Linked DNA regions of Homo sapiens: region 1 is linked to region 2. A link means that fine-mapping ties the variant in region 2 to the plasma level of a protein whose gene starts in the linked region. Region 2 holds a variant in brackets. A gene starts in the other region. All regions are shown on their reverse strands.

Region 1 (5,387 bases), not on the chromosome of region 2:
TGAGCTGATGTTAGAGATGGTTAGATCCTTTATCTCTTACATTTCTTCTAGTGTGAAAAGAGGAAAAATGAAGAGACTTGAGTGAGTGTGTGTGAACGTATGTGTTTATGTGTGTAAAACTTTAAAAATTTATTTCCAGTAAGTTTGTAGTTCACATATTACAGTTATACACATTTTTGTAGTACATGTGATATTTTGATACGTGTATATAATGTGTAATGATCAAATCAGGGTAATTGGGATATGCATCCAAACTAACATTCATCTTTTTTGTGTTGGAATCATTACAATTCTCTTCTAGCTATTTTGGAATATACAGTGAATTATTGTTAAGTATAATTTCCCCATTGTACTATCAACTACTAGAACTTATTCCATCTATCTAACTTCCTCCATTTGGAGAGACTATATTAGTACAGAGCAAGTGAAACATGTGAATACTAATAATGATTCTCATGTTCTAATAAACAGCAATCATTTAATTGGGCATCAGTGAATTTGTCATTGAGAATACATATGAGAATGGATGAGATGTCCAGTCCATGATTACTCTACTATGTACATAATTTAACTGAAGTTCCATCGTCACAAATTACTTCACAACAGAATGGATCAAATCTGTGACGTCCACTTCTCTTTTTGCGGGAAAGTATTATTTTCTTCAATGATGGCTGCCCTTCAGACAGTGGTTTCTTCAGCTCTGGTGACAAATTAGGAATGAATTCTGATGTCGTACCTAAGGCTTGTCCATCTTTGTTGTTGGAGGTTGACACCATTTCTGTGAAGTAAAAGAGAGGAATGAAAGGTGAGGAAAAACATTCATGTGAAAGAGGATCAGAAAAATTATACAATTTGCCTAGACCACAATGTACCCATTGCCTCCATGTAATTAAACACCAGAGAGAATCAGCAAGTATCCTAACATTTCAACAACTTAGCTTACTTAGAGTAGGGCACTTTAAGATACTACAATATTAAGGATATGCTAACTCCTCATCCTGTCCCCTCTATGCACTCTTCTAATGACCCTCTAAATGCCTATACCATACCACTTTTGACTCTCCCTGACACTGTTTTGATTGATAACCTCAATGCATTATGTACTGGATAGCAATAGGGAATTTTTTTTATAATCACAAGTTATTCTAATAGAAAGATTCAGATATTCAAATCTGATCCACATAAATCTATACATCTATATCAGTGGATCTTAGCTAAAAGGCTGAGAAGCAACATACATCTATATGTGTCGACACCAAATGTTAACATTTGTTATCCATGAATACTTTCCATTTTTCTTGTTAAATTTATCTATATTTGTCAAAGTATTTAAATGAGGATTTTCACTTATTTACTGAAAAAAAGTGAAATTTAAATAGAAATTATAGTACAGCATGCTCTTCCTTAGTTTGCATTAGAAATTGTTTGGACTTTGTGGTATTCTTCCCTTATTTTATAGTAAAATGAAACAAGCTCTGACTAATAATGTAAAAAAAGGAAATAACTTTGAAATCGTTATATAAATCACACAAAATCCAAGTGCATTCACTGTGCACGATAACTTTAAACAGAGTCATTTAATGATTTAATGAAGTGTATGCATATGGGTTACAAGAAGCAGTTCTGGAGTCACACATTGCTGGTTCAAAACCTGTGTCATTTGTATTAAATGTAAAACAATGTTTAGTAATTTAACTTAGCTTTTCAGAACTTAATACGACCTATTAGACAGAATATAGTAGCCTCTATCTCTTTTCGAAACTGCCCCTGCTAGTTTTAACTTAGCTGGCAATTTATCTTTATGAATACCTTGTTACTTGGTAAAGTTTGAAAACTATCCTGGTATTGAACTTTCCTCAATTCTGAAATCTTGCTTTTAAAGAAAATGCTTTGCAGTCTCAAATGTTGAAAACACTAATCAAATCAGCTATGATGGTCTGAACAGTGAAATTCCCTTGTCTCTGGTCCCCTTCAATTTCCCCTCTAGTCATCCAGGCCACTTTCTTTCTCTTCATCTCATCTCTCTCAACACACTACAAGAGTAGATTCAAAGAAATGGGAGGCAAGGTGCTCTGTTGGTGTGCATTAAAAAAAACTTTTTTGTAAGAGGACGTTTTTGGTGACATAGACCACTGCCCAGCTTAATGACAAAGGATGAGAGTTATTAAATCTAAGCCCCCTTTATCTCACATTCCAGGAACCTAACAGAGGTCTCAGTGTGCTGCCCCTAGGCCAATAGGTGCATAAACAGAAATGATAATCAGCTCATCACCTCACTGTTTGTCCCCTTTCTTCTTAATTGAAGATGCCTGGCCCAGGCATCTCATTGCAATCACACCTGTTTTCTGGCCTGCCCAGCTTTCCTGGGGGTCTGGGAGTACACCTCACCTCCTGCTGGTGTTTGAGAATAGTCACCTTCTCTGAGGATTCCCTGTTTTCTCCACCCTGTATCTCTGGCTGCCAGGTGGGAAAGGCACCAAGAGCCTCCAAGGTGAGGCTGTTCTTCTGTTTTTCCTGCAGCTTCTCCTCTACCCCCAACTTCCCATGAGATTTCTGGTGAGACCCTTTTAATAAAAGCACATTACAATGAAAAACCACAAACTTGTAGGCACTAGCCACAGTAGAGTCTGAGTTGACTACAGGCAGTCAATGAGATCTGGAGCCTGTTTTTTCAGGCCTCATTCTGATTGTTTGGTAGTCCAGGGCTCTCACCTTTGGGACGTCCAGATTCCAGCAGCCACCCTCCTGGGGTGGTGGTGAATGTCTTCTCAGGCATGGGGCAATATGACAGCAAGTGTTTTCCAAATCGGGGACCACATCCCCTCAGCTCTGCTGCTAGGCTTTCTCTAAGGAGTTGGCTCAGCAGCAGCCAGATTGCTGGCAGATAGGACCGGAACAGGCTGGCCATCCTGGACCTGAACTCTCCTGTTCTGGGTGTTCTCAGCCTTTCTTTAGAGACTTGCTGCTGTAGCCTACCAGACTGTGCTGGTGTGTCCCTTCTGGGCTCCAGACTGCTTTCTGCATGCCTTCATCAGGCATTTATTTGCTTAGGGCTATTACTCAGCTTTTGCGTCAATGGTGTCAGTTCCACCCCTTTCCCACCCACCTACAAGGAACTTTCTCCCTCAGTTCTTATTTAGTCTCCCTACTTGCCCTACCCACACTCTCATATCCCTCTTTGCTCCCAATGTGCTGCTGCACTTTGCTTGTTTTGAATTTGGTTGTTCTACTTCTTTTTCTTAACTTTCCTCCTGTAATACTATTTTTATGCTTACTAAAATAATGGTAATTTTTAATGTCCTTTGCTTAGATGAAATAAAAATAGAACTGACCTGTAAGCTCATTGGCTAGAAATTATCTTAGTTAACATTTGGCATATAAGCTTTTAATTGCGGGGGTCTGTCCCACAGACCCTGACCCAACGACGGATGAATAACATACACTGACACAGATAGTTTGCCTGTCAGTCCAGCTGAGGGTCCGGGCCACCTACAGACACCAAGGAGGGTGCTGTAAAGAGTTGCAGCCGTGGCCCCGATCAGCCAGCAAAGCTCACATTTATTCAGCATAGATTAAATGACGAAGGTCTTGAGTAAACACCACTAGAAGGTAATTGACATTGCCAACCTCCCGAGTAGAGAGCAATTATGCACCCGCGGTTGATCAAAGATTAGTCTTAGGACCACATGAGTAAACAAACTAGATAAACTACATTCATTTGTATCTGTGCCTTAAGCTATTAACTCAAGGTAAGGATTAGGCTGCCTTCAGCCTGATCTATTACTGGAGCTTATACAAACCCCTCCGGCGTTTCAAAAAGGTTTGCGTCTTTTTCTTATAACTATCTGAAAAAATTTTCCCACCAGCCTGACTGAACTCTCACATCTCCCCCCTTTCTGTTCTTTGCATCGGGTTCTGTTGACTTAAGAGTACAGATGTGTGCAGCAACAGGTTTGTTAGGTTTTGCTTTTATTCCGGCTTTGCATCATAGAATTAGCAAATAACGTAAGACAATCATGAGTATAATTAGTAACATTCCTTTCCAGTCAAAGTGTGACCCCCAGGATCGGGGGTATAACCAGGAGAAATGATCTTGCACACCTTTCCATATGGCTGTTTGTTGAGTATGTAGATCTATCATGTGAAGGGATTCTAAAATTTTAGTTTTAAGTTGCTTTACGTCTGCTGTTAAATTGTCATGAAAGTTTCCCCAGAGGTGTTGTTTCACCTCATCCCAACTATGTATTGATTGATTCCAAGGTAAAAATGTGACACAGATATGTTTATGCTCCCAGTCACAGTTTAATTGCTATCAGAATGCTAGGGCATCTTGTCGCTCCCCCACAAATTCCAAGGCAGCCTCGAGGGCTTGCAGACGTGCAAGAATCTCTTGATCTATACCCTGCTGTAAGAGAAGTTCATTAGACACATTTCTGGCCAAATTGTCTACAAAAGCAGCTGTTTGCACTGATTCGGTAGTAGATGCTATAGCCACACTAGCAGTTGCTAGGATGACTATGGCTGAGACTATAAAGGTTATAAGTGTGCCTATAAATCTTTTGGGTCTGACCTGGGATAGGGCACATTCTAAGGTGGCAAAGGAAGAGGAACCTTGCCAATAGTGTGTCAAATTGACGGGTAGGAATGCCTCAGATTGTCTCCTTAATACCATGACACTAGTAGTATTTAAATTAGATATATTGTAATTAGTGGTACATGAGGCAAACAAAGCCTGTCCTTGCACCCGGGTCACAAACATGGAATTTTGGGTTGTAATAGAAATATTAGTTCCCATAAGGAAAACATATGGATGGAGTTGCAAATTAGGGACTGATCAGTGTGATTATGAATAAAGGTTATAGTATAGTTGTTACTGTAATTATGATATGTCCCATGCCAGGTGTCAAGGGAGGTGCTAAGATGTCCCAGGCAACATAAAGTGTCTTGGGGAGGCATCAACTTTACTCGGGGTCTGGGATATCCTATCCTCCCATCGGCCCAAATCATAAGGGAATGGGACGAGGCTATGAAACTGTGATCGATGCCATGATGGATGAGGATATCAGTAAGGCTGCCCTACAAATGGCCACAGGGGCTCCAGTCTAGGATGTTATAATTGCCTAACTGGAGGCTATGAGCTTATTCCCCATGACAGATCTCCCAGCTAAAGTGGAATCCGTTATTTTTCCGGCTTTGTTCTTTAGCACAGGAAGGAATGTTTGGGAAAGCAGACTTGATTTCCGTTTTGAGGCTACCTGCAGCTAAGACTGTTAAGGCACTTCTTTTGCCATGATGTAGCCATAATTGTGTTTCAGTAGGTGCACACTAAGGGTTAGAACATTTATAATTTACACACAATGGGAGGATAGTAGAGTGATCTGTAGTGT
Region 2 (5,387 bases):
GCCCATTTTTATTTTTTCTTCTGTTTCTCTGTCATCAAATTTTTTAAAAAATTGTATAGAATAAAAGCTAAATATAGACAGATGAAAGAGATACAGAAGAGTTTAATGTAGTCTAGAGAAAATTTCATTCTGTTTATATTTACTTTTTTGACTTGTGCAGCAACTACTGGATCTGCAGGAATAGAAAACAAGTTGCTAAATACAATGTCTCTGCAAGCACTGGTTTTAATAAAAAATTTAAAAACAAACACCTTACAAAACATACTTTTTTTCCCGATTTATCTGCTTTTGAATTTCAGGAAATTGTGAGCACCAGCTCTAGAAAGGCAGCAGGATTCAGCAGCCAAAACTCTGATCTCCTTTAATGAGTTCTGTGAGGCAATACTCCAGGGTAGGTTCAGACCTAACTAAGGTCTCCAAAAAGGATGAATCTGAACACGTCTGGGGCAGGGTGAGAACCCTATGTAGAATTCTGTTCTCTATGCAACTAGGAAACTTCCAGTTTTGTTTTGTTTCTAAGCTTACCTAAAAGAAACTTAAATCCCAGAGTTTCTGTAGTTTTTATCTTTTCTAGTCACTGCCCTGACAACTTTATACTATATACTAGTATGCAACTTAAACAAATCCCTTAAGGTTTTCTAGGGTAATTTTATTAGAAAATAAATATCTACAGTTAGCAAGGTAAAAGAAATAGAAAATATACGGCCAAGCGCGGTGGGTCATGCTTGTAATCTCAAGACTTTGGGAGACCAAGGCGGGTGCAGAACGAGGTCAAGCAGTTAAAGACCAGCCTGATCCAGATGATGAAACCCCGCCTCTAGTAAAAATACAAAAATTAGCTAGGTGCAGTGGCAGGCAACTGTAATCCCAGCTACTCGGGAGGCTGAGAAGGGAAAGTCACCTGAACCCGGGCGGCAGAGTTTACAGTGAGCCGAGATCGTGCCACTGCAAGCCAGACCAGGTGACAGAGTGAAACACCATCTCAAAAAAAAAAAAGAATTTATAACAATTATTTTGTTCATAAATCTCCCTTCAGGTGTAGACATCAGAAGTCACAACAATATAAAGAAAGTGGTCTAAAGCCCAAGATTTTTAACACATCTATTTATTATACCAACCATATGATGCACACTTCAATTACTTATCCAGTAGCTAGTCTAGACTAAAAGTTTCTGGATTGTAGGAACTATGACTGCTTCATGTATTTTTTTAATGCCCATATGAAGTGGAAGGAGCTAGTTTATCTATCTGGGTCTCCAGATCTTCTCCTTATTATCCAAGTACCAGGAAACTGGAGAAGCTGTCATCGGGGTACCAACCAAAGATATCTCTTGTATGAGGGAATGAACAAACACAGGATGACTCATTTCTCTTACACTGAGACAGAAGCAGAATTAACCACTCTTGTCAGCCTGACAAAATTCTGCTCTGGACATCCTCAAATGCCTCAAAGACACCTGGGTGATTGTGAGAGATTCCCAGTGACCCAGGCCTCATGGCCCAATGATAAGCCAGGCTGGAGAGACTCAGGCTAACTCTGAATAGAAAATGGAACTGCCCTGGTGGAGCTCCAGAACCTGGATCACCCATTCTGATTTGCTAGCTCTTGGGTAAGAGAAAGATCAAAAATACTCTACTCTAGTATTACATTTTACAGCTAAATATAATTGTGGTCATGGCTCTGGATACTTTGTGGCCCCGATCTCTCACTCCTAAGATGCTTATTTACACTTACAGATTCTGCCATCTGAGTCTATTTCTCCTGGAGCCCCTCACATAACTGTAGCAGGTCAATGAACAAGATGTGAAAATCTCAAAGAGCCACACTCCCAAATGGGGGCTGTAAGATGTCTATGTTTACATTCACAATGCAGAAAATGACTTTTGTTCATTTTCTGTACATTCTCAATCCAAGTTCTGGTCCTTTCTTGTAAATCCCAGGCAGAGGCCAGACCTTATCTGCAGATTCCAGGTAGGATCCACCTGGCTCTGCATCCTTTGGTGTTACAGCAAGTGGAATACAATCAAAGGAGAGATCCCCTCATAGAGACTACTCTAGCACATTCTAAATGGTAAGTCTACATGAAAAAAAAAAAAAAAAGCTGAAAGAACATGAATATAAGTAGATAGTTTACTTGGGTCAAGCTTAAGGATTATAACCTGGGAGCAAAGATTCAAGTTGCCTGGAATCTGCATTTTGATTACCAGCAGTTACAAGACAATTTGTAAAGACAACAAGACAGGGACAGAGAGTGGGCTGATACAAAGTTGATTGTCAGAAATTTTTATTTATTTACAGAAATAACATCGATTATTGATTACATATATATTATTATGGTTTAGGGTATGGGATATAGTGTCTAATGTGGCATTATTAGTTTAATTTATAATTACTTGTGGCAATAGTGAACAGTTTCAAGAGATGAATACATAGTTCAAAGGGGGGAGAAAGACATAACAGTACTTTCATTTTAATGTCTGAGTTTGATAACCAAAGGGACTTGCATTTCTTAGGTAAGTTTTTTTT[TC/C]CCCCAAATCTCAAGACCTGGATTCAAAATTTGGAGCTTCAAGTTTAGGGCCTGAACGACTGGAGTAGCCACAGGTGTTTACCTGTACATTTGTGAGCATTTAGCAAGAGGAGGAAGGGGAAAGTGGAGATTCTCATGTCTCTATGTCTACTCAGCACACACATGTTACTCTGATTGGGTTTCTGGGCTCCATAGTTTCTGAATCAGTTTCAAATCTGAAGATACAAGAGTCACTGAAAAAGGTTAAATGATTAATTAATTGCTGCCCTGTGAAGTTTGTAGAAATTGGGTCTAGCCTCTCTAGAAGTGACAGTAGAGGAACTATCAATACCAAATAGGCAGAGACAAAATTCCACGTGCATATTTAATGGACAGCATGCATTTTGCTGCGCAAGTATGGGCTGACTCAAAGTCTGAGAGGGAAAGTCCCCTCTACAGTAAATTCTGGTTGGCACCTTATGTGTTTATATCATGTCTGGTAATTCTAGACACTCTGTGGAAACAATAATTAAAAGAAAAATTTTCTCTATTTTCAGAGAAACTCCACAATAATAGAACAGAAAGAAAATGGTCTTATTACACAATTAAACTTGAATGTGACATACATCATCATCAATCTGCTTAAGAGACTGCAAAGTCAGAAAGATGGTCATCATAATTAGTCCACAAGTAGAAGAATTTTCAGCACCATGTCATATATAGTTCATCCTAAATTCACCTGGATACTGAAGAGGCCATCTGTGTATACTAATTGCTTATATTCAATGACAAATAAACTTTTCACATCTTCATAACAGGAGTTGGTTTAGCAGCTTGAAGCCAGGTGTCTGCTGAAGCTAGGCTTTCACTCTGCTACAAAAATGGCTGAATAGTGTTCTTTTTGGCTATTTACATTTTAGAGCAGTGGCTCTGTACTCCCTGGCACTGGGCTACAGCACTCCTGTTTACTTTCTCCTAGTTGCTAGTGTCCTCTCTTTACCGCTACCATCTGCCACTGAGGCACAGCCCAGAGCACAGCTTACATTTTATGTGAACCCCATTTGCCACAGCAGCACTCTAGTGTCACATCAGAGAGTGACGTCTGAGCTGCAGGAGGAGAGCCTGCAGGCGTCATGGATAGAATTTCACCTTCACAATAATCAGAATGTGAGCAGTGTTTCAGCCTCAGTTTCTACTTATAATGATGACATGGAAAAAATACTTCTGAATTTTCAGCATGAGTCCAGATAGACATATCTTCAAAAGTTCTCACTGTGACAGCCCACCTCATTCAGACACCACGGGATACTAATAGGATTTCTGAAACAGACACCCAAAGCATTAGAGAGAAAACCAAATCTCCATCTGAGCAAGATTTTTTTTTTTTTTTTTTTTTTTTTTGAGACGGAGTTTCACTCTTGTTGCCCAGGCTAGAGTGCAATGGTGCGATCTCGGCTCACAGCAACCTCCGCCTCCTGGGTTCAAGCCATCCTCCTGCCTCAGCCTCTGGAGTAGCTGGGATTACAGGCATGTGCCACCATGCCTGGCTAATTTTTGTATTTTTAGTAAAGAAGGGGTTTCTCCATGTTGGTCAGGCTGGTCTCGAACTCCTGACCTCAGGTGATCTGCCCACCTCGGCCTCCCAAAGTGCTGGGATTAGAGGCGTGAGCCACTGCGCCCGGCCAGCAAGATTATTTTGAAAGAAAAAAGGTAAAAAGATCTCAAGAAAAAGCTCAGATTAGATATAAGATTGATCATCAGCCAGAAAATACGCCCCTAAAAGCAATTTATTTCTAAACACCCAAAGTGCACAGCTACTCTCAGTATGAGAAACATGAGCATTATGAAGAAAGAGGGCAGATTTTCAGAAAAATTTTATAAAGTTTCTTTTCCATCTCTGCTGCAGTCTCATTTTCTAGCCATTGAATGGGGGTTCTATATGGAAATCATCTGTCAACTTCCAACAACACTTTTTGATGAAGAAATAGAATCTGACTGTGTTCATACAGTGGAACATATTAGACCTTGTAACATAGTTAACTGAAGAGCTATTATGGTTTTTGGTGGCCACATCACCTGTCTTTATTTGTCCTGTAATAGCAGCGTTCCAATTTAGTGAAACAAAAGATACTAAAATTGTGTTTACCCATAATGATCCCCATTGAATAAAGTAACAAACATGTCAGACTAACTGTAACACTTTGGTAGTAAATTTTCTTTGGATATTAGATATAAATAAGTATGAATATTTTAATGTACCAGTAGTAATGTATGTAGCATTTAAAAAAATTGCAACTATACTTCAAACACTTTATATTTCAAAAGTATAAATAACAATATTAAAATAACCATTTAAGTGATTCATTCAAAGTAAGTATTGCAGCTTTATATTCATACTATTGTAGAATATACTGTTTATGGCTCACACCTGTAATTCCAGCACTTTGGGAGGCTGTGGTGGGTGAATCACCTGAGGTCAGGAGTTCAAGATCAAGCTGGCGAACGTGGTAAGACTCCATCTCTGCTAAAAATACAAAAGCTTAGCCAGGTGTGGTGATGCATGCCAGTTACTCGGGAGGCTGAGGCAGGAGAATCACTTGAACCCAGGAGGCAGCAGTTGCAGTGAGCTGAGATCATGCCACTGCACTGCAGCCTGGGCAACAGAGTGAGACTCTGTCTCAAAAAAAAAAAAAAAGAAAAGAAAATGCTGTTAAATTTATATGAATGCAGGTTGTCTGCAAATACTACACATAACTATGCTAATTGTTCTGAAGTAATAAATAGAAAGCAAGGCACAACTACAGACTCCACTGTTCAGTTTACACACTGAACTGTTTTTGCTTTTGCAGTATAAGCACTTCAGCCTGCAAATATTTGATA

Direction of the effects. Alleles are on the strand shown, and positions count from the first base shown. The strength of an association depends on the size of the effect and on how common the allele is.
For the plasma level of the protein whose gene starts at base 3,013 in region 1, allele TC in region 2 goes with a higher level than allele C (weak association).

What was found. PIP is the chance, under the fine-mapping model, that this variant and not a neighbour inherited with it causes the effect. Protein levels are from antibody-based Olink assays in UK Biobank. Linkage for the fine-mapping came from a reference panel and not from the study's own genotypes, which makes the PIPs less certain.
Region 1: INSL4 starts here. The variant in region 2 is fine-mapped to the plasma level of the INSL4 protein (UK Biobank, PIP 0.97).

Annotation. Positions count from the first base shown.
Region 1 is chr9:5,229,045-5,234,431 of GRCh38, reverse strand. INSL4 (insulin like 4) reads right to left here and starts at 3,013. Exons shown (of 2, transcript NM_002195.2): 1 at 2,713-3,013; 2 at 1-778. The coding sequence starts at 2,908. The coding sequence ends at 555. RefSeq lists a promoter at 2,919-3,736.
Region 2 is chr19:19,907,365-19,912,751 of GRCh38, reverse strand. All of the region lies in intron 1 of ZNF93 (zinc finger protein 93), which reads right to left. It also overlaps the pseudogene BNIP3P47. Among named protein-coding and RNA genes, the nearest start is that of ZNF93, 9.1 kb to the right of the region's middle. The variant TC/C (reference allele first, on the strand shown) is at 2,528.